7 linked regions of the Homo sapiens genome follow. The protein of the gene in region 7 purifies or fractionates together with the protein of the main gene of each other region. This does not show direct contact. Each region holds a gene or a part of one and is shown on either strand. Other genes may lie near its edges.

Evidence for each region.
Region 1: the proteins of PHF2 (region 7) and CEP131 purify together in Homo sapiens (affinity purification with mass spectrometry, with the first as the bait; one large-scale study listed by BioGRID). This does not show direct contact.
Region 2: the proteins of PHF2 (region 7) and YTHDC2 purify together in Homo sapiens (affinity purification with mass spectrometry, with the first as the bait; one large-scale study listed by BioGRID). This does not show direct contact.
Region 3: the proteins of PHF2 (region 7) and KPNA5 purify together in Homo sapiens (affinity purification with mass spectrometry, with the first as the bait; one large-scale study listed by BioGRID). This does not show direct contact.
Region 4: the proteins of PHF2 (region 7) and IWS1 purify together in Homo sapiens (affinity purification with mass spectrometry, with the first as the bait; one large-scale study listed by BioGRID). This does not show direct contact.
Region 5: the proteins of PHF2 (region 7) and TTLL12 purify together in Homo sapiens (affinity purification with mass spectrometry, with the first as the bait; one large-scale study listed by BioGRID). This does not show direct contact.
Region 6: the proteins of PHF2 (region 7) and SUPT6H purify together in Homo sapiens (affinity purification with mass spectrometry, with the first as the bait; one large-scale study listed by BioGRID). This does not show direct contact.

Annotation. Positions count from the first base shown.
Region 1 is NC_000017.11:81,212,121-81,216,476, forward strand, and holds part of CEP131 (centrosomal protein of 131 kDa), read right to left. Parts: intron 1-4,356. UniProt on the Homo sapiens protein: Component of centriolar satellites contributing to the building of a complex and dynamic network required to regulate cilia/flagellum formation.
Region 2 is NC_000005.10:113,516,349-113,520,704, reverse strand, and holds part of YTHDC2 (3'-5' RNA helicase YTHDC2), read right to left. Parts: intron 1-4,356. UniProt on the Homo sapiens protein: 3'-5' RNA helicase that plays a key role in the male and female germline by promoting transition from mitotic to meiotic divisions in stem cells.
Region 3 is NC_000006.12:116,722,481-116,726,836, reverse strand, and holds part of KPNA5 (importin subunit alpha-6), read right to left. Parts: exon of another isoform or gene 3,513-4,356; intron 2,541-3,512; coding exon 2,462-2,540; intron 1,087-2,461; coding exon 961-1,086; intron 343-960; coding exon 215-342; intron 1-214. UniProt on the Homo sapiens protein: Functions in nuclear protein import as an adapter protein for nuclear receptor KPNB1. Binds specifically and directly to substrates containing either a simple or bipartite NLS motif.
Region 4 is NC_000002.12:127,491,315-127,495,670, reverse strand, and holds part of IWS1 (protein IWS1 homolog), read left to right. Parts: intron 1-716; coding exon 717-799; intron 800-2,260; coding exon 2,261-2,390; intron 2,391-3,582; coding exon 3,583-3,700; intron 3,701-4,356.
Region 5 is NC_000022.11:43,176,647-43,181,002, forward strand, and holds part of TTLL12 (tubulin--tyrosine ligase-like protein 12), read right to left. Parts: intron 4,295-4,356; coding exon 4,096-4,294; intron 3,355-4,095; coding exon 3,195-3,354; intron 3,107-3,194; coding exon 2,973-3,106; intron 1-2,972. UniProt on the Homo sapiens protein: Negatively regulates post-translational modifications of tubulin, including detyrosination of the C-terminus and polyglutamylation of glutamate residues. Also, indirectly promotes histone H4 trimethylation at 'Lys-20' (H4K20me3).
Region 6 is NC_000017.11:28,668,526-28,672,881, reverse strand, and holds part of SUPT6H (transcription elongation factor SPT6), read right to left. Parts: intron 4,350-4,356; exon of another isoform or gene 4,252-4,349; intron 4,234-4,251; exon of another isoform or gene 1,651-4,233; intron 126-1,650; exon of another isoform or gene 24-125; intron 1-23.
Region 7 is NC_000009.12:93,677,105-93,680,464, reverse strand, and holds the end of PHF2 (lysine-specific demethylase PHF2), read right to left. Parts: intron 2,878-3,360; coding exon 2,789-2,877; 3' UTR 878-2,788; downstream 1-877. UniProt on the Homo sapiens protein: Lysine demethylase that demethylates both histones and non-histone proteins. Enzymatically inactive by itself, and becomes active following phosphorylation by PKA: forms a complex with ARID5B and mediates demethylation of methylated ARID5B.

The sequences.
Region 1 (4,356 bases), on a different chromosome or scaffold from region 7:
CCTGGCCACCATGGTGAAACCTTGTCTCTACTAAAAAGATATATATATATAAATTAGCCGGGCATGGTGGCACGCACCTGTAATCCCAGCTACTCAGGAGGCTGAGGCAGGAGAATCACTTGAACTGGGAGGCGGAGGTTGCAGTGAGCCGAGATTGCGCTACTGCACTCCAGCCTGGGCGACAGAGCAAGATTCCCTCTCAAAAAAAAAAAAAAAGAAAAGAAAAGAAAAGATGTTCAGCCTCACTCACAGATGTTAAGTTAGAAATAAAATCAGAGGTGGAGGGCGAGGTGCTGTCCAAGCAGCCCTGGACAGGAGTGGGGCCCGTGCAGAGGGACTGTTCCGAGTAGCCCCGGGCAGGAGTGGGGCCTGTCAGCCTAAAGGCAGAGGGGCTCTTCCTAATAGCCCTGGGCAGGAGTGGGGCCTGTGCAGAGGGGCTGTCCCGAGGAGCCGTGGGCAGGAGTGGGGCCCGTGCAGAGGGGCTGTCCCAGAGCATAGCACAGCATTGGTGGTGTTCTTCCCATGGGGTTTGGGTTATCCACTGTGACACCACCTTACACACCTTACACACACACAGGAGCTAAACCAGGGACAGCAGACGATGGGGCCGCATCCTCACTGCAGGAGGGGAGGTTACAATCAGCAAGCGTCGGGGGGGCGAGAGGTGCCACTAGCGGCAGAGACATCAGTAGGACGCACAACACCAATGGTTACTAGGTAGGTTACTATCTATAGACAGTGTGTATATTACACACCAACTGGCGTACACTACATACTTCCTTGCTCTGTTGGCTGAGAAGACCAGAAACAGCCCAGTAGGGACAAGCACACCCAGCTCCCAGACCTTGGTCTCTGAGACCACTCTCCAAGAAAAAGAACCGGGGCTTCTTGAAGAAATGGCTGATTCTAGGACTGGAGGAGGAAATAGACAAGATGAGGCTGGAGCAGTTTATAGGGCCAGAAATAAGGACGTGCTCAGAAGACAAAGTGATGGGCAATGACACAGGGACCCAGGAGCCACCTGAAAGTTCCCAGTGGCCAAAGCTGTGACAATGAGAGCAACAAAATAAGCAAACTAGCATTGAATTATAACTTGAAGTGTAAAATAAATATCCACGAGTCCATTATAATAAATGATTGAAAAAATTAATAAGTGGGGCCAGGTGCAGTGGCTCATGCCTGTAATCCCAGCACTTTGGGAAGCCAAGGCAGGAGGATCACTTGAGGTCAGGAGTTCGAGACCAGCCTGGCCAACATGGTGAAACCCCATCTCTACTGAAATACAAAAATTAGTCAGGTGTGGTGGCACACGCCTGTAGTTCTAGCTACTCAGGAGGCTGAGATAGGAAAATCGCTTGAACCCGGGAGGCGGAGATTGCAGTGAGCCAAGATTATGCCACTGCACTGCAGCCTGGGCGACAGCGTGAGACACTGTCTCAAAAAAAAAAAAAAATTATAAATGAGGGTGAACAGACAAATCTCCTGTGTAGAAGAATTCCAAATAACTTCTATAGATGCTCTTCTCTAAAGGAGGGGGAGCAAAACTCCCCACCCCTTCCATGTGGGCTGAACAAAGCGACTTCCTTCCAGAGAGCACAGGGGATGGGCGACCTCACAGTGGAGAAGCCTGACCCTCCACCTTGGCCAGGGGACCAAGGCCAGCAGCATCACCAGTGAGAGGTCACATGGACAGTGTGGACCCCAGACAGGATGGGGTGAGAAGAGTACTTTACCTCTGTGGCCTTCCTCCTAGAACCCATCCACCACCCAGTCTGATCACGAGAAAAATATCAGGCAAGGGCCAACAGGGGGCCATTCTGTAAAATCCCTGACCAGCTCTCCCCAAAACTCGAAGGTCATCAAAAACAAGGAGAGTCTGAGAAACTCACAGCCCAAACAAGCCTGAGACCCACAGCCCAAAAATCATGTGGGATCCTGGGACAGAAAAGAAAAACTGCAAAAATACAAATCAAGTGTGGACTTTAGTCAGTGATTTACCAATAATGACTTGTTAATTGTACACGTCCCATCATAATGTAAGATATTCAAATAGCAGAGACTGGGTGCGGTACAGGGGAACACCCTGCACTTTCCAATTTTTCTATAAATTTAAAACTATACTAACATAAAAGGTTTATTTTTAAAAATCGTACAGTCACGCCGGAGGCTCACGCCTGTAAGCCCAGCACTTTGGGAGGCCAAGGCGGGCGGATTCACTTGAGGTCAGTAGTTTGAGACCAGCCTGGCCAACATGGTGAAATCCTGTCTCTACTAAAAATACAAAACTTAGCCCGGCATGGTGGCAGGCGCCTGTAATCCCAGCTACTCGGGAGGCTGAGGCAGGAGAATCACTTGAACCCAGGAGACAGAGATTGCGGTGAGGTGAAATCACACCATTGCACTCCAGCCTAGGTGACAGGAGTGAAACTTCATCTCAAAAAAGAAAAAGAAAAAAATAAAATAAAAAGTAAAAAGTAAACTAAAAGGTAGTACAGTCAGATATCTTTTGTTACATATGGATCCTGTAAAGGCCAAAACTGTGCTGCACGTGTGCCAACCAGAGCACGAGGGAGCAGGCCCCGTGGCACCCTGTGATGCGAGTGTGACTTAGGGCAATGATCTTTACGGACAGCAACTTGGCAATGCCTATCAAAAAAAAAAATTTTTTTTGAGACGGAATCTCGCTCTGTCGCCCAGGGTGGAGTGCAGTGGCGCGATCTCGGCTCACTGCAAGTTCCGCCTCCTGGGTTCACGCCATTCTCCTGCCTCAGCCTCCCGAGTAGCCGCGACTACAGGTGCCTGCCACCACGCCCGGCTAATTTTTTTTTTTGTATTTTTAGTAGAGATGGGGTTTCACCGTGTTAGCCAGGATGGTCTCAATCTCCTGGCCTCGTGATCTGCTTGCCTCAACCTCCCAAAGTGCTGGGATTACAGGCATGAGCCACCGCGCCTGGCCAAAAATTTACAATTTAGTTTTAATTTTAATTTTAAAAGATAGAGTCTCACTCTGTTGCCCAGGCTGGAGAGCAGTGGCATGATCATAGCTCACTGCAGCCTCAAACTTTCTGGGTTCAAGCCATCCTCCTGCCCCAGCCTCCCATGTAGCTGGGACTACAGGCATGCACCACCACACTCGGCTAATTTTTTAATTTTTTTGTAGAGACAGGGGTCTCACTATGTTGCCCAGGCTGGTCTCAAACTCCTGGCCTCAAGTGATCCTCCCACCGCAGCCACGCAAAGTGCTGGGATTACAGATATTGGCCACCACTCCCGGCCCCCTTTCAAATTTTTTTATTTATTTAATTTTTTTTGAAATGGAGTCTCGCTGTCACCCAGGCTAGAGTGTGGTGGTGCGATCTTGGCTCACTGCAACCTCCAGCTTCCGGGTTAAATCAGTTCTCCTGCCTTAGCTTCCTGTGTAGCTGGCATTACAGGTGCCTGCCACCACGTCCAGCTATTTTTTCTATTTTTAGTAGAGACGAGGTTTCACCGTGTTGGCCAGGCTGGTCTCGAACTCCTGACCTCAAGCAATCTGCCCACCTCGGCGTCCCAAAGTGCTGGGATTACAGGCACGGGCCACCGCACCTGGCCCCCCTTTCAAAATTTTAAATGGACTTATGCTCTGACCCAGTAGTTATCCTTTAGGATTTATTCTACAGGCGTATTTACATGTATGCAAAATGGCAAAGACACAGGGTATTTGCTGTGCCACTCTTGGTACTATGATAAGGAAAATCCAGAGGAGCACTGGGTGAAGTTCTGGTGCATCATCTGATGAACTATTGTCAGCTGCTACAAAACAATGTAAGGAAAGCGGGAGCAGGGTCAGGTGCAGCGGCCCACACCCGTAATCCCAGCACTTTGGGAGGCCGAGGTGGGAGGATCGCTTCAGCCCAGGAGTTAAGGACCAGCAACCTAGTGAGACCCCTGTCCCTACAAAAAAATTAAAAATTAGTAGGCTGGGTGTGGTGGCTCACACCTGTAATCCCAGCACTTCGGGAGGCTGAGGCAGGAGGATCACCTGAGGTCAAGAGTTCAAGACCAGCCTGACCAACATGGCGAAACCCCGTCGCTACTAAAAATACAAAATTAGCCGGGCATGGTGGTGCATGCCTGTAATCCCAGCTTCTTGGGAGGCAGAGGCAGGAGAATCCCTTGAACCCGGGAGGCAGAGGCTGCAGTGAGCCGAGATCTCACAAATGCACTCCAGCCTGGGCAAAAAGAGCAAAAGTCTGTCTCAAAAGAAAAAAAAAATTAAAAATTAGCTGGGCAGGGTGGTGAGCACCTGTAATCCATGCTACTCAGGATGCTGAGGTAAGAGGATCACTTGTGTCCGGGAGGTGGAGGCTGCAGTAA
Region 2 (4,356 bases), on a different chromosome or scaffold from region 7:
GTATAAGAAAGAACCATTGGTCCTTGTTGCTCACTTCTGTGAACAAAAAGTGCACTAAGGCCATGGGAGTCATCCACTTTCAGGTCAAGGTCTATCCTTTCCCTTGTGGTAAATACCAGGCCAGAGATGAATCAGCACCAAACCAAAGGCCCTCATCCAAATATGAGAATGCTGACTCCTTCTCATTTAAAGAAAAAAAAAAAAAAGAGATTCTTTTATTTTCAATAATCCTTTATTCTTGGGAAAACCCAGTTTAAATGTGACCTAATTTTTTATTTTATTTAGCATATTACATCTATGATCATAAGTAAGATAAACCCATAATTTTCATTTCTAATATCTTCTTTATCTGAGTTAGGTAGCGAAGTTATACTAGTTTCATAAAAAACAGGAGGTGTCCCTCTCTTTGATTCTCCAGGAAAAACTGAAGTAAAAATAAAATTATGTTTATTGTGCAGCCATAAAAAAAGAGTAAGTTCATGTCCTTTGCGGGGACATCGATGAAGCTGGAAACCATCATCCTCAGCAAACTAACACAGGAACAGAAAACCAAACACTACATGTTCTCACTCATAACTGGCAGTTGAAAAATGAGAACACATGGACATAGCGGGGGAACATCACACACAGGGGCCTGTCAGGGATTAGGGGGAAAGGAAAGGAAGAGCATTAGGACTAATATCTAATGCATGCAGGGCTTAAAACCTAGCTGATGAGTTGATAGGTGCAGCAAACCACCAGGGCACATGTATACCTATGTAACAAACCTGCACATTCAGCACATGTATCCCAGAACTTAAAGTAAAATAAAATTAAAAAGAAAAGAAATTATGTGTATTGACTCTTTGATTTAAATTACCTCTGAATGGCATTTGTGTGAGTAAATTTCTAATCTTGATTAAATTTATATAATGAATTTTTTAAAAAACCATTGTTAGGATTAAATGATAATCCATTTAAAGCACCTAGCACAAGTATACAACAACACTTAGTAAATGTTTGCTCCTGCCTCCTCAAGGAATGCAGCCCTGCCGATATCTTGATTTTAAGTCCATGGGACCTCTGTTGTTGGACTTCTGACCTCCAGAACTGTACTTTGGTACTCTATTTGGTACCTGTTAGGCAGTGACCTTAGCAGTCACAGAAGAAACTTGTACTTGGAAAATCTACTTTCATATACTTCATATTTTCCCATTCTACAGATTTTTAACAAAGTTCATTTTGTAAAATCCATTTTTGTCTAACTTGGACTGAGAAAAATCGAGATGGGATTTTGTTTTCATTATAAACAAGCCAAAGACTTAGAAAAGTGAGCCTTTAGGACTAAAACACACTGACCTCAGCGTGACTTTAAACACAACCTTTAAAGTTGAGGAAAAAAAGTAAATAATGATGTGAAATTTTTGGTATGTGAAACCTGACTAGAATTTCAAAGAAAACTTTAGGATATATTAAAAATCACAAAATGGGGCTTTTACTCCAAGAATGTTTTCACTAAAAGATGAGCAATTACAAAAAATAATCAAAACAGCGCCAAGGCACACTAGTTCAGGCCTATAATCCCAATACTTTGGGCGGCCTAGGCAGGAGGATCACTTGAGCCCAGGAGTTTGAGACCAGGCTGGGCAACATAGCAAGACCCCATCTCTAAAAAAAAAAAAATCTTAAATTAGCCAGGCATGGTGGTGCATGCCTGTGGTCCTATCTACTTGCGAGGAAAGCCTGAGCCTAGGCGTTTGAGGCCATACTGAGCTATGATTGTGCCACTGTACTCCAGCCTGGACAACAGAGGAAGACTCTGTCTCTAAAAAATAAAAATAATCAAAGCAGGTAAAATTCAATTATTTAGAAGATGAAAAACAAAATCCATCACAAATGACATAATTTTGAAAGAAAGAGTATCAAAAAGAAAAAATTGACCAGAAAAAAATTGAAAGCTATCACACAATAAGTCTGGAATCTATTTTTTAAAACTTATATAAAAAGCCCAAATAAGAGAATGAGTCAATGAGAGACTGGAAATAGAATCCAGGCTTTCTGCACTTTACACCAGGTGGCCTCTCAAATAGGTACTAAGAAACTATAATATCAGACACCTACAGATACACACACACACACACACACACACACACACACACACACACACACGAAAACTAACTTACTGAATCAATAAAGTTAACGATAGATTATTTTTTTAAAAATCGGCTGGGCCCAGTGGCTCATGTCTGTAATCTTAGTACTTTGGGAGGCCAATGAGGGAGGATTGCTTGAGCCCAGTAGTTCAAGACCATCCTGAGCAACATAATGAGATGCTGTCCTCTACAAAAAATAGAAAAATTAGTTGGGTGTGGTAGCATATGCCTGTAGTACCAGCTACTCAAGAGGCTGAGGTGAGAGGATTGATTGGGCCTGGGAGATGGAGGCTGCAGTGAGCAGCGAGCCGTCATCATTCCACTGCACTAAAGCCTGGGTGACAGAGCAAGACCTTGTCTCCAAAAAAAAAAAAAAACAAAAAAACGCCAGGTGCAGTGGCTCACGCCTGTAATCCCAGCACTTTGGGAGGCCAAGGCGGGCAGATCACGAGGTCAGGAGATCTAGACAATCCTGGCTAACACAGTGAAACCCCATCTCTACTGAAAATACAAAAAATTAGCCGGGCGTGGTGGTGGGCGCCTGTAGTCCTAGCTACTTGGGAGGCTGAGGCAGGAGAATGGCGTGAACCCGGGAGGTGGAGCTTGCAGTGAGCCGAGATTGTACCACTGCACTCCAGCCTGGGTGACAGAGCAAGACTCCATCTCAAAAAAATAAAATAAAATAAAATAAAGTCAAAGGGTGAACAGAAAATTTCATGGATAAGTCAGGTACAAATTCTCATACAAATGAAAAGAAAGGATTTGAGAAGTAGATTCAAAGTGATTTCTTTCTTTTTGTGAAAAGAAGAAAAGGCATTTGAAAATCACAAGGACCACTAAGAAAATATAGTACAAAGTTTACTCAAAGATGAAAAAAAGAGAGAAGGAGCTAGGGTATTTCGTAAGAAGGTTTGAAAGCATTAAGGTTATAGGTATTAGGGACTGGATAAATAGGCAGGATTGCCTTGCTTCCCTTAGCATCTCTTTCCTTTTTCTTCTTTCTCTGGCTCTTCAATGTTTCCGCATTCCCCATTTTTGTCTCCATAACTTCCTTCTTGAATTCTCCTTCCCAAGATATCTATTCATTCCAGATCAGCTCTTACATGACTATGCTACTGAAGAGAAGGACAGGAAGTCTACTCTAATGGACTGCTTTTCTAAGTTAGCTGTTTAGAATGCAAGACCCATGTAACCATAGAAATGATGTAGCTACAGAACTGTACATTTATAACATGTGTTTCCAAGCACAGGCCCAAAACCTCTTACCTGCAACTAGTAAACCCAAACAGTGCCAAAAACTGGAAACTTTTAAGTTTGCAGTAACCTCATTTGACATCAAATGTGATCACGTGATTAAACTGACATGAGGTTATTAATAGTCTCAGTGTGAATATTCATAGAATTTCCAGCAAAAATATAAATGTGACTAAAGGTGATGGCCATATTTTATTAGGTAGATTATACAACATATTGCAAATATACCCAAATACCTTTCTAAAGTCTAAAAAATCTGAATCTCAAATATATTTAGCCCAAGTGTTTCTGGATAAAGTATTGTGGCACTGAACTATATTTTTATTTTCAGGTGCAGTATTTTTACCTACCTAGTGGACTATAAGATGGGCACATTCAGGAATCTAACCACTGTTCCAGCACTGGCCTTAGTGATGTTCAAAACGCACATTCACCTAAACTAAATCCCGTGTCTCAGTAATTTATCACTGTAGTAGGCAGTCATATGCAAGACATTCCTACATCAGCTGCTTTCACTTTGGGACCATCTGAATATTTATTAATATATTTACTTAATAAAGTTTTGTTTTCCCTCTTCCTAACCTAAAAACATACCGGTAAGCTGAAATTTTATCCTTTTCTTCCCTCTATGTCAGTAGTTCTCAACCTGAGCAATTTTGCTCTCCAGAGGACATTTGGCAACCTCTAGAAGCATCTCTGGTTGTCACAACTGGGGTTAGGAGTGTTAGTGGCATGTAGTAGTAATGGCTATGGATGCTGTTAAACACCCTACAGTACACAAAACAGAATAAAGAATTATCCAGTCCAAAATGTCAATAGCACCAACAGTGAGAAAGCTTCCTTTACATTGATCCCACCATCCTTATTAACAAAATGAAATAGCGCCACAGAATTTTAGAGTTTTTCAATTTGGATGGCTCAAATGACTTTTCCCTCAATGTAACTCTGTGATCCTCCCAACAAAACAAAA
Region 3 (4,356 bases), on a different chromosome or scaffold from region 7:
CTTAAGCAGCCTATCAAGGAGAATGATGTTAATTACACGTTAAATGGGGAAAAAAAAATTGTGAATGAGTAACTGATATAATACATGCTGTCATTTCATATTATCAAACTGACTTAGAAATAATATTTTAGTTCCATCAGTAAATTAAAATATGTTTTATTTCAACTTTTGTCTCATTTACATGTAAAAAACAATTAAGAAGTTTATATCATACCTTATTTGCTCTGGAGTACCTCCTGATGTTGCATTAGTTATAGCCCAAGCTGCTTCTTTTCTGGTACGAAACTCTGCTTTCTGAAGAATCTCAATCAAAACAGGAAAAATATTTGCATCTATAACAGCCTGAGAGGGGGAAAAATATATAATCAGTACAAATACTGTTTCTAAAATATTACCAGTAAAAAAAATCTTGAAACTCAATGGCTTCAAAATGTCAAGGTTTTTGGAACCTTGACATTAAAATAAATTTTTAATTTCTATTCTGTCAGCAAACTTTTCAAATATTTTTCTTTTTACATAGGAAATTAGCTTTTTAAAGACTGGAGAATAGCAAAATATAAATTTTAGAGATGATAAAGCACAAGCCATGTGACTGATCAAAATGGATAAGTAATCACTGACACAAGAAGCTTGATAGAACCCTAATAAATCATTAAAAGCTTTGAGAGGAAGATTATTGCATAACTTATTTAAAACTAATGCAAAAAAATATCTTTCTAAAGACAAACCATTATGTGTCAGGCACTGTGCTAGACACACACACACACACACACACTTGATGTTCTTCACTAGAATACTACAAGTAAATGTTATTATTTTAGAGGAGGAAAGCCCATGTTCTTTAAAATACTTTTTCGGTATCTTTTTAAAAAGGAATCTTTTTTAGTAAAAGTGTTAACTTTTGTCCAAACTGGCTTCTTAGACCTTGCTGTTCTACTCTCAGATCTGAAGGGTAGTTACCTGAATCTGAGCTCTATTTCCAGCAGTGATGTTAGAAACAGTCCAGCAGGCTTCTTTTCTAATTGACTCCTTTGGGCTACTCAATAAATGTAAGAGACAGGGTAATGCAGAACAATTCAAAATTACCTAAAACAAGTTAGAAATGGAAACAAAAAGTTTTATAGTAAATAACCTATATGAAAATCTACTAATGAATTATTTAGATGTACAAAACCCATTCTAGAAAGTGAAATTAAGAAAGGAGAAATTCCTCCCAAAGTAAAACTTGCTGTCTTCTACACGTCTGCTATTGATAAACCTAGTCTCCTGCCACTATAAGGAACTGCCCTGTTCTCAACCCAATAAAATGAAAATCAGAGGTGTATCCTTCATATTTACAAATGTTCTCAGAGTTCAACTGATAAAACTGAAAAAAGATTTGGTGACCGAGGTCAGGATCCAACCTCTAGTTTTGCCAAATGAATTGGTGAAAAAAATACATATATCATACAGTCTGAGAAAATCCAATTCTACAACCATTAAAAACAGCATGTAGAATCAATTGGCTTCATAAAAATTTTTACTATCTTACTCTTCTTCTGTAAACAAGTATATTCTGCATTGTCCCTTTACATTCTTTATTCCATTGCAAGATTAATTATGTTCCTATATTCAAAATACTCCAATGATTTACATTAAATTCATCTGGTGAAGAAGTGTGGAGCAGTGCACTGGAAATCCAACTGAAAATTACAGTATATGTCTAGAATGGCATTTTCATTTCAAGAGCTATATTAAATGAATAACTGTCAATTACTAAAGAGCAACTATTTAATAACTATGATTAGTATCCAAATAGGCCTTTAAAAGGATAAAACTGAAAGAAAATATGTAGGTTAGAATAAAAAATACACTGTAAGGCGGTAAACAAAGGAGAATCTAACGTGTTAAATAATTTAAGTTTCTATCTTCAAGAAAGATTGTGCTGGACATACTGGCTCATGCCTGTAAGTCTAACGCTTTGAGAGGCCAAAGCAGGAGGATCACTTGAGCTCAGGAATTTGAGACCAACTTGGGCAACATAGCAAGACCCTGTCCCTAAAAAATAAATAAATAAATAAATTAGCCAGGTGTGGTGGTGCACACCTGCAGTCCCAACTACTTGGAAGGCTGAGGCGGGAGGACTGCTTGAGCCAGGAGGACTGCTTAAGCCAGGGAGGTAAAGGCTGCAGTGAGCCATGATCACACCACTGCACCCCAGCCTAGGAGAAAGAGCAATATCCTGTCTCTAACTAAACTAACTTACTAAATAAATAAAAAGATTGTAACCCAAATCTGGCTGGAGTCAATCTTGACAGCACATCTTCTTTGACATCTCACCATCCTCCAAGACACAGATACAGACACACACACAATTATGGTGATGCTAAAATCTTGATTAATATGTAATCAAGTTGTATGAAACATAAATTTTTTAAAGTCCTTTATGTTAACAATTTATGATACTCAAGTTTGAACTCACCTGTGTTTGAATATCATCACCAGTCACAATATTACCAACTGCCCTTAATGCAGGTGATACAACTTTATAATCATTGTGCCTAAAAATAATAAAAACATGAACCTAAATACTAGTAAGAATTTAAAATTTACACAGAAGTTACAAAAATACTACAAACTCCTGCGGGGTGTTCAGCCAAAGATCCCATTGAAGTTTTACTAATTATTCTGATAATCTTTATAACAAAGGATCTAATCCAGGATCGTTCATTACAGCCAGTTTTCATGTCTCTCCAGAATGATTTCTCAGTCTTCCCTTAATTTTCATGATTTTGCCATTTTTGAAGATCATAAGCCCATTATTTGGGTTTATCCAATGTTTTTCATGATTAAGACCCAGGTTATATACTTTGGCTGGGGGATATCGTAAGTGCTATAACCTTTTCATTATATCCCAATCTGTTTTTTCCCATTATATTGGTACTGAATTCTGGTCACTAATTATGATGATGTCTGCCAGACTTTTCCATTTTACCATTATTGTTTTCCCATTTATAATTAATATAATTAATATTTTGCAACAAAATACTTTGAGATAATGCAAAATCCCACTCCTTAACCTACTTTACCACTAGATTTTAGCATCTCTTGATGCTTATTATCTGAAGTATTGGTAATTATTAGTATTATTACCAGTGATGTATTTCTAATACTATCATTCTAACTACATGCTTTAGTGTGGACTTATGGGTTTCATATTTTATTCAATAAAATATACATTAATGCAATTTATTTCAAAGCACAAACTGTCCCAGGTTTGGATAGTGAGAACCCCTTCAAATAGGCTTCTGTGTTCTTTTGACATCTGTCCATTACTTGAGCACTCATTACTTCCTGCATTCATCTTACATTTTTCTCAGTCCCAGTCCTGAAACCAGTCATTTCTCCAACAATCTTGGTTCCTTTCAATGGAGAGTAGTGTTTAGAAACTTCGATTTGAACTTCAGTTTCCTCAGCTTATTAATGTAGAAGTGTTACTGTTCCCATGCCCTTCAAGAGGATGCACACACACATACCTACACACATGTATATATTTATTTCCATACCTAGCTATGTTAAGAGCCATGAGTTCACACTGATATTTCTAGTTCTAATCTAAAATAATTAAATTATTCAGGCTTTCTCCTCTTCTATATTTTTATCTCTATTCTCCGATAACAGGAAATAGCTTCTATTTTCCTAACCTCCCTATATCAGCCAATCTTTTACCTCAGCCAGACTGGTACCCCATGATGTGCTGGCTCCAAGTCCTGCTCCAGCCTGCTTATCTGCTCACCCCAGTGGGTGTCATTATCAAGTTGGGGCCCTGATCCCCCATGCTGAACCTGCATGCCCACCCTCCACTGATGCTATCCTCATGCTGGGACCCCCAACTCCTTATCAGACCTATCTTTGTGCCATCTACCTTGTTTGGGCCTACAATGGCTTCTCGACAAAAGAAGAAAGGAAGGAAGATAATACATTTTTTAAAGAGGGTAAGTAGATGAAGTTATGAAGTTACAACATCTTTTTAAAACAAGTTTTCTTCAACGTTTTTAACTTCTTTGTATAGAAAAGCTGTTCTTTTTAAGGAAAATAGCTATAACAGCCCAGCAAAGAGAAACATGTTATCTTTAATAGAGGTGAAATACTAAATGATTTTCACTACATGGACTTTTACTCAAATTAATTATTATAATGAATAATAAACTAGATTATTTGTTCTGTGAGAGGAGAAACTGTGTTCTATACTTCATTAATGTCTCACACAACACCTTAGCAGATAACAGGCATTCCATAAATACTTATTAAGTTTATCTAATTCATAAAGAGATCACATTAAACTAAGGAAATTCATTTACAAAATAATTAGTTCCA
Region 4 (4,356 bases), on a different chromosome or scaffold from region 7:
GTCGTTCTCTTGCTCCTGATCAAGACACGGCTTCTTTCATTGCATTTTAAAAATCTGCTCAACTTATAAAAATTGGCCCAGTAGTATGTTTAAAAAACAAGTTCAGATCTTTTGGAGACACTTGTTGAGAGTTCAGCATGGATTCAATGATCTGTGTCTAGGATTTCTTTCAAAACAATTCAAGAATGGAGGGAAAGTAGCTAAAAGAAGACTAGCTATGTGTATTCAGTTGTTGAAATATATGCAACAGGTATATTATTCTATATTTGTAGAATTTGAAATTTTTCATAATTTAAAAAAATAGAAAAAACTGCCCAAGTAATACTGAAACTCTTCTTTGATATAGTATATTCCAATATCATATAACCTCACACCTGGAAAATTGTTCCTAATATAATAAACCAGAATTTCCCAGTTTTAATTTGTACCTTTAATGAACTCTGAAAATTTGACAGTTATGCTAATGTTCTACATTAAAATTGTTTCTCTCAATTTGTAGTTGTTAAAGGCAATTATTCTAATAGTTTTTTGGGTTTGACTGACATAGACAGATACAGAGCTTGGTGCTCTGCAGAAGATCCATCTTAAATTATTCTTTCTTGTAGGAAAAATTGTTTCTTTGAAAAACTGTTATTTTAAGGTTCAGAATTACAGTGAATTCAATATTAATAAAAAGTACTGTTTTAAAAAAAAATCTTTATTTTTTTTCTGAATAGGAAGACAGACAGTTGAACAATCAAAAAAAGCCAGCACTGAAAAAATTAACTTTACTGCCTGCTGTAGTTATGCACCTTAAGAAGTAAGTATTTTGTTTTCTTTAAAATGTCTTTTTCCTTTTCATGGAATGATAATTCAAATGATGTACTGGTGTTCTAGGAATATTAAATAATGATAGACTTCTATCGGTTCACAGAAAGATAATGAATAAAATTTCCTAAATTATATTTCTTCATAAATTTTTATTAAGCCTTGATGCCTGGTGCAAACAGAACAAATAAAAAATTGATACTAACGAAAGAAAAACTTGGAAACTACTAATTTTGTGTTTTTTTGTTTTGTTTTTGTTTTTTTGGTAAAGACAGGATCTTGCTATGTTGCCCAGGCTTGTCTTGAACTCCTGGGCTTAAGTAATCCTCCCACCTCATCCTCTCAAAGTGCTGGAATTACAGACATGAGCCACTGCACCTGGCCACTAATTTTGTTCTTTATAGACAGTTTTTGGTCTGGTAAAATTGCATCTGTTTTCTCCGTGTGATGGAAAATAGTAAATCTTGGAAGATCCTACCTGAAGGCTGCATTGTACAAGGCTTATATGACTCTAATGTGTCACAATTATTGATCCTTCTGAAGTAATGATGCCCTTTTTGAGTAGATCCTTGTTTCTAACTTTTTTCATTGATTTGCTTTTTTTTTTTTTTTTTTTTTAATTAGAGACAGGATCTCGCTGTGTTGCCCAGGCTGGTCTCGAACTCCTGGGCTCAGCCGATCTTCCCGTCTCAACACCCCAAAGGCAAAGTACTGGAATGGGATTACAGGTGTGAGCCACCACACCGGGCCCTGATTTGCTTATATTTCTGAGCAACCTTGCTTTCTCTTTGAACTAAGCCACAGCCTACTTTTGATGACTGAGGAAATGTATTGGTGCATCAGTGAGCTGCCACCAGCATGGCCTAGAGCATCTGTAACTAGAAAATTTCTCCCTCTATTCTAACAGGGGAAACTATCTGTGGCAGGTTTTATGTATATAATGTTATCTTTTCTATTAACATAACTGATTCCAGTACATAAAATGGAATTTAAGTATTATTTTATTGAGTTTTTTTTTTTTTTTTTTGTCCTGCCAGTGGAGTGCTAGTCTCATTGGTGTCCTGCAGAGAAGAGCAAATCTGGGTTCACCACCATGTAAAACTGTTCAAGAATCACTATTTTGATAGATTGAACGTTTTTTTTTTTTAGTTGAAAAGATTGGAGTTAATTGTTCTTACTGTCTGTACCATTCATATCAGCATTAATTTATCTTGTGTAACTTGAGTTTGTTTTGTTTTCAGCAAATCATCTTTGTCAAGTATATGCATTTCTGGAAAATAAGAACTAAATGTCATACTGCTTTCGAAACCAGAATGGTGTTCAGTAAATGTCAAATTTATATGAGTAACGCTTTAAAAGCAGTTTTTAGAAACATCACTAAATATGTAAGAAAAGTCGGAAGATACAGTAGAACCAAGGTTCACAGAATTTTTAAAAATTATTGTTACTGCAGGCAGGACCTTAAAGAAACATTCATTGACAGTGGTGTGATGTCTGCCATCAAAGAATGGCTCTCACCTCTACCAGATAGGAGTTTGCCTGCACTCAAGATCCGGGAGGAGCTGCTGAAGATCCTGCAAGAGGTTAGAGGCAGATAATCTGACTGTTCTTTATTAATTATCTAATGTGGTCTGTATGGTCATAACCTGTGTAGTTTACAGTGTTTTTATATGTTATCTCTGCTACAGCCTGCCAGAAGAGGGGTTGGAAAAAAGGAACATATCTAATAAAATGAGCGTGAAAGGGAAGACCTTATAAAACTTCATGTAACTATCGCATTGAAGGGAAAAAATCTTAGAGTAGCTGTAATGTGTCTGAGAAGAGTAGTACAGTAGTGGGCAAGTTCCAGGGAGAAATGTGACGCAGAATGAACACCAAATTCAGAATCATATGAACTTGCATTTGAATCTTGAGCTGGGCCACCTTACGTAGTTGTGACACCTTGGGTAAGCTATTTAACTTCTGAAGGAATTCCCAAGGAAACCTCCTATGCCACGCACTGTGCCAGGTGCTTTATATATGTATTGATTCGTTTTTTCCTCACAGTAAACTGAGAAGGTAGGTGTATTATTTCCATTTTACAGATGAGGGAATTAAGATGCAGAGAAGTTAAACGACTCGTCAAGGTCACATAGCTAGAAGGTGGCTGTGCTTGGGTTCAGTCTTAGGTCTATTGGATTCTGAGGCCTGTGCTGGCTCCTGTATTAAACTGCTAACCTCTGAGTACGCTTGGTTCATACTTTCTCACATTGTTAGGTTTTACTTCAACTCAGCTGTAATACTGAGCTCTCAACCTCTTTTTGTTTTTTTTTTTTTTGAGACGGAGTTTTGCTTCTGGTGCCCAGGCTGGAGTGCAGTGGCACCACCTCGGCTCACTTCAACCTCCGCTTCCTAGGTTCAAGCGATTCTCCTGCCTCAGCCTCCCGAGTAGCTGGGATTACAGGCGCCTGCCTCCACACCTGGCTAATTTTTGTATTTTTAGTAGAGATGGGTTTCACCACATGTTGGCCAGGCTGGTCTTGAACTCTTGACCTCAGGTGATCCACCCGCCTCAGCCTCCCAAAGTGCTGGGATTACAGGCGTGAGCCACCATGCCTGGCCTGAACTCTGAACTTTTGATGTGGACACAAAGTATCTTTGTGTTCTATGTCTGTAGATCCTGAAAATGGAATTTTTTATTTGTTCTGTTGTGAATGTGCCAGGTCTCTAGAATAGACTAGCAAGACCCCCAGCTTCCGAGTGATTAATATGTGTGTATGTGTTTATGTTCCCCAGCTGCCTAGTGTGAGCCAGGAGACCCTGAAGCATAGTGGGATTGGACGAGCAGTGATGTATCTCTATAAACACCCCAAGGAGTCAAGGTCTAACAAGGACATGGCAGGGAAATTAATCAGTATGTAAATTTTCCTTTTTGTTTGTTGTGTTTATGTGTATAGATAAGAGAGAGATGCGTATATATAAAAGCTGTATTTTTACCAGTATTTGTTTTAAACGAGTCGGTAAAGTGGAATAGAAATTTTTGAATAACTTCTTACAGGTACTAGCATTTTCTCTTAGACTTTAAAAAAAAACCTCAATATAATTAAGTATGCTATTCAGTATTAAAAATAGCAAGTAAGAGGCTGGGTGTGGTGGCTTAACGCCTGTAATCCCAGCACTTTGGGAGGCTTAGGTGGGCGGATCACAAGGTCAGGAGATCGAGACCATCCTAGCTAACACGATGAAACCCCATCTCTACTAAAAATACAAAAAATTAGCCGGGCATGGTGGTATACACGAGTAGTCCCAGCTACTCGGGAGGCTGAGGCAGGAGAATCACTTGAACCCGGGAGGCGGAGGTTGCAGTGAGCCGAGATCGCGCCACTGCACTCCAGCCTGGGCAACAAGAGCGAGACTCCGTCTCAAAAAAAAAAAAATTGCAAGTAAAAAGTATGCATTTTCTAGTCATGGGTCGAGAGCATGGAGAAAGAGAGGGGTTAGATTGCAGGCCATGGAGTTGATATTACCTGGGTTCAGATCATGAATCCACCACCTACCTTACTGCATTTC
Region 5 (4,356 bases), on a different chromosome or scaffold from region 7:
TTGAACCCGGGAGGCGGAGGTTGTAGTGAGCCGAGATTGCGCCACTGCACTCCAGCCTGGGAGAGAGTGTGAGACTACATCTCAAAAAAAAAAAAAAAAAAAAAAAAGGAAAAGAAGGAGGGGACACAAGCCTCACCACCTGGCATCAGGTTCTATGGCCTCAAGGGGCGCATGGCTGCTCCTCCCTCCCAACACCCCAAAGCCTCTAACCACCCCCCTCACCCCAGGATTCTGGGGCTCCAGGCCCCTCGGATGCCGAACAGTCCTAGTTTGGTGTCAAAAGAACAAGGTAAACATTGTTGCACATCTTCTCGGTGCTACCTCAAAATCGCAGGGGGCGAGAAGGTGCCAAACCCCTCCTGAGAGGAGCCGCTTTGTCCTAGGAGCCACGAGGGCTGTCGGGAGCTTCTGCAGTGTGATGATTTAAAACATGCCCACGTGGCTGCACATGGTGGCTCAAGCCAGTAATCCCTGCACTTTGGGAAGCTGAGGTGGAGGAGTACCTGAGCCCAGGTGTGTAGGACCAGCCTGGGCAACATAGTGAGACCCCGTCTCTACAGAAAAGTTGAATAATTAGCGGGGCTTGGTAGCAGTTGCCTGGAATCCCAGCTACTCGGGAGGCTGAGGCAGGAGGATTGCCTGAGCCCAGGAATTGGAAATGGCAGTTAGCTAGGATCATGCCACTGTACTCTAGCCTGGACAAAAGCAAGACCCTATCTTTTTTAAAAAATTAAAAAAAAAAAAAGATTAAAACATGCCTACAAACTCTTTGACACTATCTTCCAAAGGCAGAGCCGCATCCATCTCTGAGGGTGGGATGGGCCTAATGAGTTGCTTCTAATGAGCAGGAAAAAGGTGGAAGGGACAGGGTTGCTTCTGCAACAAGGCCATGAAGCCTGAGGCTTCCTCTCTGCTCTCTCCCTCGGATCACTTGCTCTGGGAGAAATCAGGTGCCACATCCTGAGGACACCTGAGCACTCTTATGGAGAGGCCCACAAGGCAGGGAGCCCAGGCCTGCTGCCAACAGTCAGCACCAACACAGCAGGCATGCACATATGCCATGCAGAAGCGGGTCCACAGCCCGACGGGCGGCCTGTGTACCTCAAGGGAGACTTGAGGCCAGAGGCACCCCGTTGAGCCACTCCTGAACTCCTGTCCCACAGAAATCGTGTGAGATAATAAATGTTTACTGTTTTAAGGTGCTAAGTTTTGGAGTTACTTGTTACCCAGCCATAGCTAATCAACATAGGCAACCCTGGGCCCAGAGCACAGACCTGATTGTAAAGGGTCAAATGGGAAAAAACAAGGATGCGTGGCCTTGTATCTCCTCCTCTTCCTGGTCAGCCCAGAGCTTCCCAAGGAAAAACACAAACTTTAGTTCATGTTCCATTAACAAACAAACCCGAGACCAGGAAGTGTTTGTCCCTCCAGTTGCATCCACGAAGGCATTCACTTTTTCAGACAAACGTGTACTAAGCACCTTCCTGGTGCAGGGGCTCTGGGAGGCTTGTAAGCACCCTTTGAACCAACAAGACTGAGCCCCTTGTTTTTGGCATGGTTGGTTCAATCACCACTGACTTAGACCGAAAGTGAAAGGAGGCCCCCCCACCCACAGCCCACCCCTGCAATCAGCAGCGCCCACACAAACACGCCACCACTCCACACACGCCCGCTCTATTTTTTTTTTTTTTTTGAGACGGAGTCTCGCTCTGTTTCTCAGGCTGGAGTGCAGTGGCGCGATCTCGGCTCACTGCAAGCTCCGCCTCCTGGGTTCACACCATTCTCCTGCCTCAGCCTCCCGAGTAGCTGGGACTACAGGTGCCCGCCACCACGCCCAGCTAATTTTTTATATTTTTAGTAGAGACGGGGTTTCACCGTGTTGGCCAGGATGGTCTCGATCTCCTGATCTTGTGATCCGCCCGCCTCAGCCTCCCAAAGTGCTGGGATTACAGGCATGAGCCCCCACGCCCAGCCTCCACGCGCCCACTCTCACATGGGTCAACTCGTCTAACCCTTCCCGAAACCCTCCGAGGCACTTAGTGAGCGCCTGGTGTGCAAAAAGGATGACTTCAGTCGCCGTGGGGGCAAGCCTGCAGCCTCAGCTGGACTCCAGCTCTTCCCCCTGCTGTGTGACCCCTGGCAAATGACTTAACCTCTCTGTGTCTCAATGTCCTCATCCTCAGTAAAATGAAGATAAAAACAGAACTGTAAAATTGTAAGGAACTGAGTGGCACACGCCCACAAAGTACTAAGCACAGGCTCCCTTGTAGGCTGGTTCCAGCCTACGGAAGCAGCAGCAGATGGGAGAGGAGGGGAAGGAGGAGAGATGGGTCAGGGTAGGAACCTCCTACCCAGCCCTGACTGGTTCTGGAGGTGGCTACGCTCCCACAGGCTCCTCTTCCTCCCCCGGCACTGGGGCCTCGACAACTCCGACTCCCTAACCCGCCAGCCTCCTTGTATGGGGCCTGGATGAGCTCTTACCTCCAGCCAGGCACTACCGAGTGGGCCAGCTGGGTCCCTCGGGGCCCTGACCAAGACTGAAAGCACCTTTGTTATCAATAACAGTGACCATGATGGTAACTCGCAGGCCTGCAGAGGGAGGGAGGCACGCGATGTGTGAACACAGGGTGTTTCCATGCCTCGGTGAGATGAGGACAGGGGGCTGAGTGGGGCTCATGGCCAAGACCAACTGCACAGCCCCCTCCTTCCCAAGGGAGCAGCGTGGACCCCCTGAGGACGGATGCCAGCACCAGGCACCCTGGGATCTGGAGCCCCCACCGTGCAGCCACAGGCAGCTTGTGTTCACTCTCTGAGCCCCTCGTCTCTCAGAGGCTCCCAAAACTCTATGCCTCCCACGGTAACTGGCTCAGGGCCTGGCACCCGGCTGGGGTTTGATAACATTTGGTGTGTGCACAGAGAACATTCTGGAAGCTACCAAGCAGACAGGCCTGGTGGGTGGAGGAGGGCTGCACCTGGTAGTGCTCGGCGGGCGGCTCGGGTGTGCAAGAGCTGAGGTCCAGCATGTCGGTGGGGGCCCAGGGCAGCAGCATGCACTTCCGGATCAGGGGGTCCGTCTCTCCGTAGGCAAAGTCTCGGGTCACCTCCTCTGTGCCAAGACATGAGTGCCCATCAGAGGGGGTGACGGGACACTGGGCTGAGGCCCCTCCTCCAGGGCGGGCAGGTGCTGGACTTACCGCCAGTGTCCAGGTCCCTCAGGGGCCACAGCAGCGTGTAGGCCACCTGCTGCGGCATGTAGAAGAAGGGTGCCGTGGCGAAGCTGGGCACGTCCGCGTGCTGGATCCGCGAACCGAACTCGTCCATGATATACCACACCGGCATCTTCTCCTCAGCTGTCTGCAGACAGAGCACATATGGCACCTCTCGCTCACCCATCCACCCACCGGAACTCCCTTCCGGAACCCAGACATCGACCACCAGCCCACAGCCATTTCTCTGATCTTGGAGGCCCTCTCACATGTACCCCAGGCCCTTTAGCTAAGCTAGGGGCTCCGGGACAGCAGCCCTGCCTTTGCAGACCAGGACACAGGCCTGGGTAACACAGCGTGAACACTCGTGGTAAAAGGGCGTTTGGTAACAAGGCACTCAGCCCAGCACCCGTAGGGGTGTATATGGGTTTGAGGGTAATGGGGGGGTCGGGGGAGTCGTCTTTGAGCTCAGGGAAGGGTCCCTGGAGGAGATGACATCTAAGCTAAAATCATGAGAAACAAGCAGGTGTCTTTTCCCAAACTAAGAGTGGTGAGGGGCTGGAGCATGGGGTGAGTCCCCGGAGAGGCCAGCAGGGGTGGGTGAGGAATGGTTGAGGGCTTTTAAGAGAGTGACAGAATCAGGGGGGCCAGGAAAGAGGCGGCTGAGTCATCTGGGCCCCTTCAGTTTAGGAGTCTGAGAGGGCTGCGTCCTGTGAGCTCAGAGGCCAGCTGGGTCCGAGTCCCCAGGATAGCACTCTCCTTAGGAAGCCACAGGAGAAAGTGAGTTGCTTGCTCTGGCCGGCCCCTCACCCGGCCTGATGGCACAGGGCAGCGGAGGTCTGTGCCCATGCCTGTCCTCCCCCTCCCCGGGGCCCAGCTACCCACTCACCCCATGGGCCAGCTGGTAGGTCTGGTTGAACTTCCACATCTCCTCCAGCACCAGGGCCACAGCCTCTGTACTGGGCAGCTCACCGTGGAACTCAATGCCCATCAGGTTGGCCATGCGGTGCAGCAGCCCGGGCACCTGCTGCAGCTGCTGGCGCGCGTGCTCCACACGGCACGTCCAGGCGTGGTCGATGAGGAAGATGCTGCGGGCACAGGCCACAATGTGAGGCTGCCGGGTGGGCATGGGGCAAAGGGAAGTCGGGGG
Region 6 (4,356 bases), on a different chromosome or scaffold from region 7:
ACCGCACCCGGCCTCATACGTACTTTCAAAAAGAAGGCAAAAGCCAGGCTACTCAGGAGGCTGAGGCAGGAGAATCTCTTGAATCCGGAAGGTGGAGGTTGCAGATTGCGCCACTGCATTCCAGCCTGGCGAGAGAGTGAGACTCTGTCTTAAAAAAAAAAGCCATTAGGCCAGGCGTGGTAGCTCACTCCTATAACCCCAGCACTTAGGGAGGCCAAGGCAGGTGGATCACCTGAGGTCAGGAGTTCGAGACCAGCTTGGCCAACATGGTGAAACCCCGTCTCTACTAAAAATACAAAAATTATCCGGGTATGGTGGCAGGTGCCTGTAATCCCAGTTACTCTGGAGGCTTAGGCAGGAGAATGGTTTGACCCCGGGAGGTGGAGGTTGCAGTGAGCTGAGATTGCACCACTGCACTCCAGCCTGGGCAACAAGAGCAAAATCTGCCTCGAAAAAAAAGAAAAAAAAAGAAAAGAAAAAAAGAAAAAGAAGGCAATTATACCAGACTTGTATATGTATCATCTCTCTTCCCCAAAGTTTTACCTCACTTACCATTTGAAGACAGGAATGGGCAAATGAGGAAAGAAACTAATGTAGGGACAATTAAGTGGGGATATGGTGGTAGAGTGAGATTATGTGATCTGCTTCTAGGAGGCTTGGAAACAATAAGTGCCAACTTTATAAAAGGTGCTTTCATATGTTTACATACACTATTCATACTTATTAGCAAAGTCAAAAGCAAAATCTCTTTTCAATAGATTAAACACACAAATACTTCATGAACTTGAGCCAATTTGTGTGAGTACTGGTTGGGAGCATTTGGGTCCAAAAAGGGCCTAGTTTTATCATTTACTCCCCTTGCAGGCAAAAAATCTTGAAAGGCTTCCATGTCCTACAAAATAAATGCAACATGGTTAAATGGAAAGACTGCTGGGCTCAAGAGTAGAAATCAAATCCTGGTTTCATACCCTACGGGCTAAACATAAACTTAAGCAAATTATTGGACATGCCTGAATATCACTTTCTTAACCTGGAAAATGGTAATAGCGCTACCTACCTTACAGGATAGTTGAGAATATTACATGACATAGGGGAAAGAACCTATTGTTTCAAGATGGGTTAACCTGAGTTTGAATTTGAATCCTGAGCCTAATTTTCCTTAGCATTCTGTAATTCTGTACCAACCAACCCCAACTTTATCTTCTACTTCCCTGCTTTCAGACTCATCCAAAGCCTGGAAACGACAGTAGGGATCTTCAAGAACCGTAACATGGAGCTTGATGGGCCTTGAGTAGGACTTAAAAAACAGCACACATCATCACAACAAGATTCCATTGTGGAACCCTAAAGCTGGCTGCTGACACACTCAGCATCACTCCTCACCCCATCCAGTAAAATGGTCTATGGGATATATCCCATGTACCTTTCTCTCACTTAGACTACAAGCTTCTGGAAGATAAAGAACATATCCAATAGAGAGACTAATAAAAATCATGAAAACATAAATGGCAATACAAGAGGCATTACAAGGCACTCTGTGATTCTGCACCAGAAAAGCTATATCCCTTCAGGTGTGCTGCAACACATTAGCAACAAATTAGCTGCTAACAAATTAGCAACTGTTAAGTGTCTGTTAAATAAACTACTTACGTTTTCATATTGCTGCCATCTTCCCAGTTAAAGATGGCAGTGGGAGGGGAGAGAAGAGAAGGGTGGCTAATGGCTACCTGAAGGTGCCTTAAGTTCTGTGGCTCTAATTCTCCTCAAAATTGCCCTTACGGAGCTCAATCAATACTATAACCAATGAACTTGAGATTAACTAAACTCAAGAAAACAAAACTGAAGGTATAGGAGGGAGGGGGAATGTTCAATTTTCGGTTGAGGTTTCAGATGCCATTCTTTCCACAAACCTAACTGAATGCCTACAATGTACATATACTCTGCTAAGAGCTGGGGATTTGAAGAGAATTGTTCATTTTCTTTCTTTTTTTTTTTTGAGATGGAGTTTCGCTCTTGTTGCCCAGGCTGGAGTGCAATGGCGTGATCTCGGCTCACCGCAACCTCCACCTCCTGGGTTCAAGCGATTCTCCTGCCTCAGCCTCCCGAGTAGCTGGGATTACAGGCATGCACCACCATGCTGGCTAATTTTGCATTTTTAGTAGAGAGGGGGTTTCTCCATGTTGGTCAGGCTGGTCTTGAACTCCTGACCTCAGGTGATCTGCCCGCCTCGGCCTCCCAAAGTGCTGGGATTTACAGGCGTGAGCCACCGCGCCTGGCCGGATTGTTCATTTTCAAGGAGTTGAATGTCTCCTAGAGATAGAAATATGAAAATAAGGACCATAAAATCGTTTTATATATTACAATAGACACACAGAACAGGCACAGGAAGAGAACTGGACAATAAACTCACAACACACACACAAAACCCAATCAAAATAATATGGGTCTCTCTTGGGTATTTTAAGCAATTTTTTAAAAAGTACCCTGAGGAATAATGCTTATTACACACCTACCAAGTGCCAGACACTAACAAATACCCTACTATTTTATGTCCCTATCAAGGAGAACAAGTATTCTATTAATCCCTACACTGTCCTATGAGTTACAGCACACTTCTCTCTCAACAGAGGAGGAAACAGACTCAGAGAGATGTAGTCATTTGTTCAAGGTGACAAAACTATCATCTGTAAGTGCTGAGGTCTGTCTGACTCTTCATGGTTGACAGTACCACATCTATCAATAGTTTTCAGGGCGTGGTCCAGGGGCCAGTCCCTCTGTTCTCTCAGGAGCATAGAGTGGAGTTTTCCAGAGGTTATAGGACATGTGGTTATCACAACAGACTGAATGCAAAAACATATGAGAACACAGCTGTATTCTGTTAGAGCAGACATTAAAACATTGTACTAAAAAACAAAGAATGTCATTCTTACTTAATTTACTTATTTTGAGACAGAGTCTTACTCTCTCACCCAGGATGAAGTGCAATGGCACGATCCTGGCTCGCTGCAACCTCCGCCTCCTGGGTTCAAGCGATTCTCTTGCCTCAGCCTCCCGAGTAGGTGGGACTACAGGCGCTCGCCACCACGTCTAGCTAATTTTTGTTTTTTTTAGTAGAGATGGGGTTTGGCCATATTGGCCAGGCTGGTCTCGAACTCCTGACCTCAAGTGATCCACCTGCCTTGGCCTCCCAAAGTGCTGGGACTACAGGCGTGAGCCACCACGCCCGGCTATTCATTTATTTTTTAAGACAAAGTTTCACCATGTTAGCCAGGCTGGTTTCGAACTCCTGAGCTCAAGTGATCCACCTGCCTCGACCTTCCAAAGTTCTGGGATTACAGGAGTGAGCCACCACACCCAGTCCATTCTTACTAAAATGTTTTGTTTTAAAAACTATTATTATTCGGCCGAGTGCTGTGGCTCATGCCTGTAACCCCAGGCCGAGGCAGGCCGATCACCTGAGGTCAGCAGTTTGAGACCAGCCTGGCCAACATGGTGAAACTCTGCCTCCACTAAAAATGAAAAATTAGCTGGGTATGGTGGCAGGCGCCTGTAGTCCCAGCTATTCAGGAGGCTGAAGCAGGAGAATTGCTTGAACCTGGAAGGCAGAGGTTGCAGTGAGCCAAGATGGTGCTACTGCACCGACAGTGAGACTCCGTCTCAAAACAAACAAACAAACAAAAAAACCCAAAAAACTACTGTTATTCATAAAAAGTATTATTGTTTACTACTTTAAAATAAATCAATAAATATTTTTAAATGTCTCACTGAGTTTTAATTTCGAATCTGGTAAATATCAAAGGATATAACTCACATAAACAAAATGTCTTTGAAGTCCTAAATAAGTTTTAAGAGTATAAAGGGGTCCTGAGTCCAAAAAGTTGAGGAGTGACTGTAAAGACCCTAAAGAGATGCGGTATAGTAAGCCTAGGGGTTAGGGTGATGCTCCCCCATGACCCCAAGATCTCTATCCTTAAGGTCATTTAGCTTGAGCACTGCCAAAAGTGAAAGTCTTAAACTTCTGCCAATTAAATCTAGAGCTCTAATTTTAATTTTGACATTGCTCCCCCTCAGCCCTGAACTGAGCCATTAAAAACAGATTTGAGTACGGCAGCCCCCACACATAGCTTGTTCTAATTAGGCTATCAGACCCACAAGTTCAATCTTTTAAGGCCTCAACATCTTCAAATTAAATGCCAGCTCCTGCAGACCAGATGCCCCTCAGCCTACTTAACAGAGAAACACACAGCCTACCTGATGAAAACAACAGCTTTCTTCTGTCTCAAGGGCAGCTGGTGCTCCATGCTGCACACAGCTTGGAAAGATAGCTGTGTTCTCTTTCTTCCCATCGCCTAGGTT
Region 7 (3,360 bases):
TGCAGTGGTGGGTCAGACACCCAGCACGGCAGAGCCCTCTGCTCAGGGTCTACTGGAGATCCTGCTTCCTCAGGGTGTTGGCAGCCAGGGCCGACCCTGCTCAGCAACCTGCAAGCTGAGCAACCTTGGGTGACCCAGGCCAAACTTGTCTCCAGCTTATCCCACTCCCAGCTCCCATCCCAGGGCAAGACCCCATGTGTGGGGGCCTGGGCCAGTCCAGCCGTCATCACACCCCTTGATTCTCAGCATCTGCCTGCCCAAATGGCCCGAGGTTATTCATGTTTCTTCAATAAACGCCAAATGGCCTGTTTATCCGTGGTCCTCAACATTGTCACCAGCACCCCCACGCATGCACCCCCACCAACAGACTGACCCAGGCCTCACCTGTGTCCCAGCAGCCCTGCCTGCCACACATCACGAGCAGCGACCCCACCCCTGCGCTCAGCACCCTCCCTGGGCTTGCACCATTTGAGTGCCTCTGTCAGGTAAGGGCTGTTCCTGGTAGTTAGCTGTAATCACATCAGACTTAGGCTAGAACCGTGCAAGGGACTGAATGCTTCTGGGTGTGCATCCGTGCTGGGGTGCACATGTGTGTGCCTACTGGACTCAGCCAAACGCCATACCCTTGAGTCCAAAAGAAGGTTCTAGAGGCTTCCCAAGGACATCCTCAGGGCTGGGACTGACAAACGCTGCTGCCACCCCTGCAGCCCCCGAGGGTCTCTTCTGTCCACTCCTGCCAGCCAGCTTGGGGTGCTGTGTGTGATTTGGCTGAGCAACCCGAAGCTTTCCATGAGGAACGCAGGTGGCTGGAGCCTCCCCACCACCCTCACTGCCAGGGTGAACAACTACAGTCGAGGCAGAAATGACACAGACATGGTTCTGTACAAAACCTGAAATATTTTTACTTTTTTAAAACTTTGATCTAAGTTGCCTTAGACCTCATGGACTCGATACAAGAGTAATATGAATTGGGAAATAAAACACTTTAATAGCCACGATAAACTTTGTTAGAAATGTACATGTTGCCAAAATAATAATAATAAAATTAAAAAAAAGAGAGAGAGAGAACAGCTTGATGTCCAGGTTAGATTATATAAATGTTCAACAAGGGCAGGGTAAAGGAAACTTTAAAAACACCAGTTCTGAATAAGCCTGGGGCCCCGTGAGACTCCCCCTCTCCCACCCAGTCTCGGGCCCTAGGGACTGCGTCCCTCCAAACAGGACAAGTGGGAGTGGATAAGGCCTCCACCAAGCTGCCTCTCCCAGTGGACAAAAACATCCAGGTAATGGGTATATAAACAAAGCTCATAAGAAATGTACAAATATAAAAAGCTACAAACATTAATAAATTACAGCATCACAAAACACGGAAACACTTCACAAGGTGCTAGTAAAATAACTGTATCCCCCAATCCCCTCATCATACAAGGAAAACAAAGAGCTGGTATTAAAGTTGAAGATTCATCTTCAAAATGTGTCTGAAATAGATCTTTTGTGTACTATTTGCTTCTGTAAAGACAGAGTGTAAGGCTGCACAGACATCACTTGTTTTTCAGGCAATACCTTAGTTCTTAAAAGAAAAAAATAATAATAATAAAAGGAAAGGAGAAGGAAAAAGCATCAGAACCCAACTGTCCATCTGACTCAGCAAAAAACTCGTATAAATGTTAATGAAGAACTCTATAGAAAGAAATTCCTAAAGATACTTTTACTCTTATAAAAAAGAAGTTATTTAAAAAGCTATTTACACGCTACATTCTATGAAAAATATGCTTCAGGAAATACATCTAAAATTAAAATACAGGATTGCCTGAGAAACAAATCCAGCCCCTCCGTGTCGATGGTGGACACACCATCCAGGTACGACCCATGCAGGCGACACCACACGCTGACACGGGAGAACAGAGAAGTGCCGACCGTAAGTCCTCGGGCCGCCTGGCCACTGTCCCTGCCCCTGCCCCTGCCCTGCCAGTCCCAGGGCAGGGGTGCCTTGGCTGAGAAGTGCTTCTCCAGAGTGTGGCCAGCAGGGCAAGACGGTCCCTGCCACATGGCTTAGCCTGGGCCTCCCAGACCCCAAGATGTGGCTGAGCCCTTGCCCTTTCCTGGGGACCCCACAATGGCTCCCCTGCCCGCTAACACACCAACCCAGCTGCCAGTCTTAGCTGCCCCCCAGAAATGCTCCTGGGCATTCAGGCTGAACACCCACCATCCTGCTGCCACCTGCCAACCAGAAAGCTCGGGGCAGACCCTTCCTCACCCGCCGAGCACTGTCTGGACTTGGCTGAGAATCACTCAGGAAGAGAAGGGGGGACATAAACATCCCACTTGCTCCTCCTCTTTCTGTGTTCTTTGCCTTTTTTTTTAAGCCCCTGGAGGCTGCCAGCCTGTGGCCAGCTCTGACTCTGGGGCTGGTGAGCATTGGCTCACTCTGTCTTCCTTGAAGGACTCATGCTCTCAGCAGAGCTGCAGAGGCCCTGCAATCACACCCACGCTCAGGGGGCCTGAAGGCTGTCCTTAAAGTGGAATAAGCGGTCCTCAAACTTGCAGGGCCGCTTTTCTGGGACAGATCACTCTTAGCAACTTGAGAAAAGACGTCCATTTTCAAATTGAGGGGCCACGCTGGGCTCGCTCTGCCGGCTGAAGGGACAGACGCTTGTTGGGGAGATGGCAGCCGGGAAGAGGCAAGGCCCTCCCTGGTGAGGCAGCTCGGCACCCTCCTGGGAGGCAGATGTTTTCGCGGGGCTCCGGGGGTCCTGAGCGGAGCAGAAGGATCCTGGCTTTCCAAATCTTAAAGGAGTAGTTTCCCGTTCCGATGAATTTTCAAAATTTTCCCAAGCCTCTGCTTGGCGGTCGCCATGCCCTTTTTCGTACGTTTTCCTAGGGGAGTCGGGGAGGGGACACAAAAAGGGAAGGTAAGCTAGATGGCAAGGGGCGTGGCATGCCGGTGGGGGGGAGGGTCCCGCTGACACTAAGGGGCAGCCTGCAGTCCCCCATCTGTAAAATGGGCCTATGAAGCCCCAGCTCCGAGCTCAGCACCCTTCAGGAGTCTGGGATCACTGGCAAAGCCTCCGCCTCAGAGGCCGTGTCCTCAAGGGGCCCTGGCAGGTAGGATGGACATGGGCTTGGGGATGGCATTATGAGGAGGACATGAGGATGCCTGGGCACCACCCCCAGTAACAAGGCCAGGAGCCACTGCCAGCACCCCGTGCTGCATCACTCAGTCCCCACAGCTGGCCGGCCCCACGGCTGGGGTGCAGGGGTGCAGGCAGATCAGGGGCTGAGCACGCCCACTGAGCAGAAGGATGAAAGCACACGTCCTGTACTGTGGGATACGCTCACACAAAGATGCAACCAACTTGG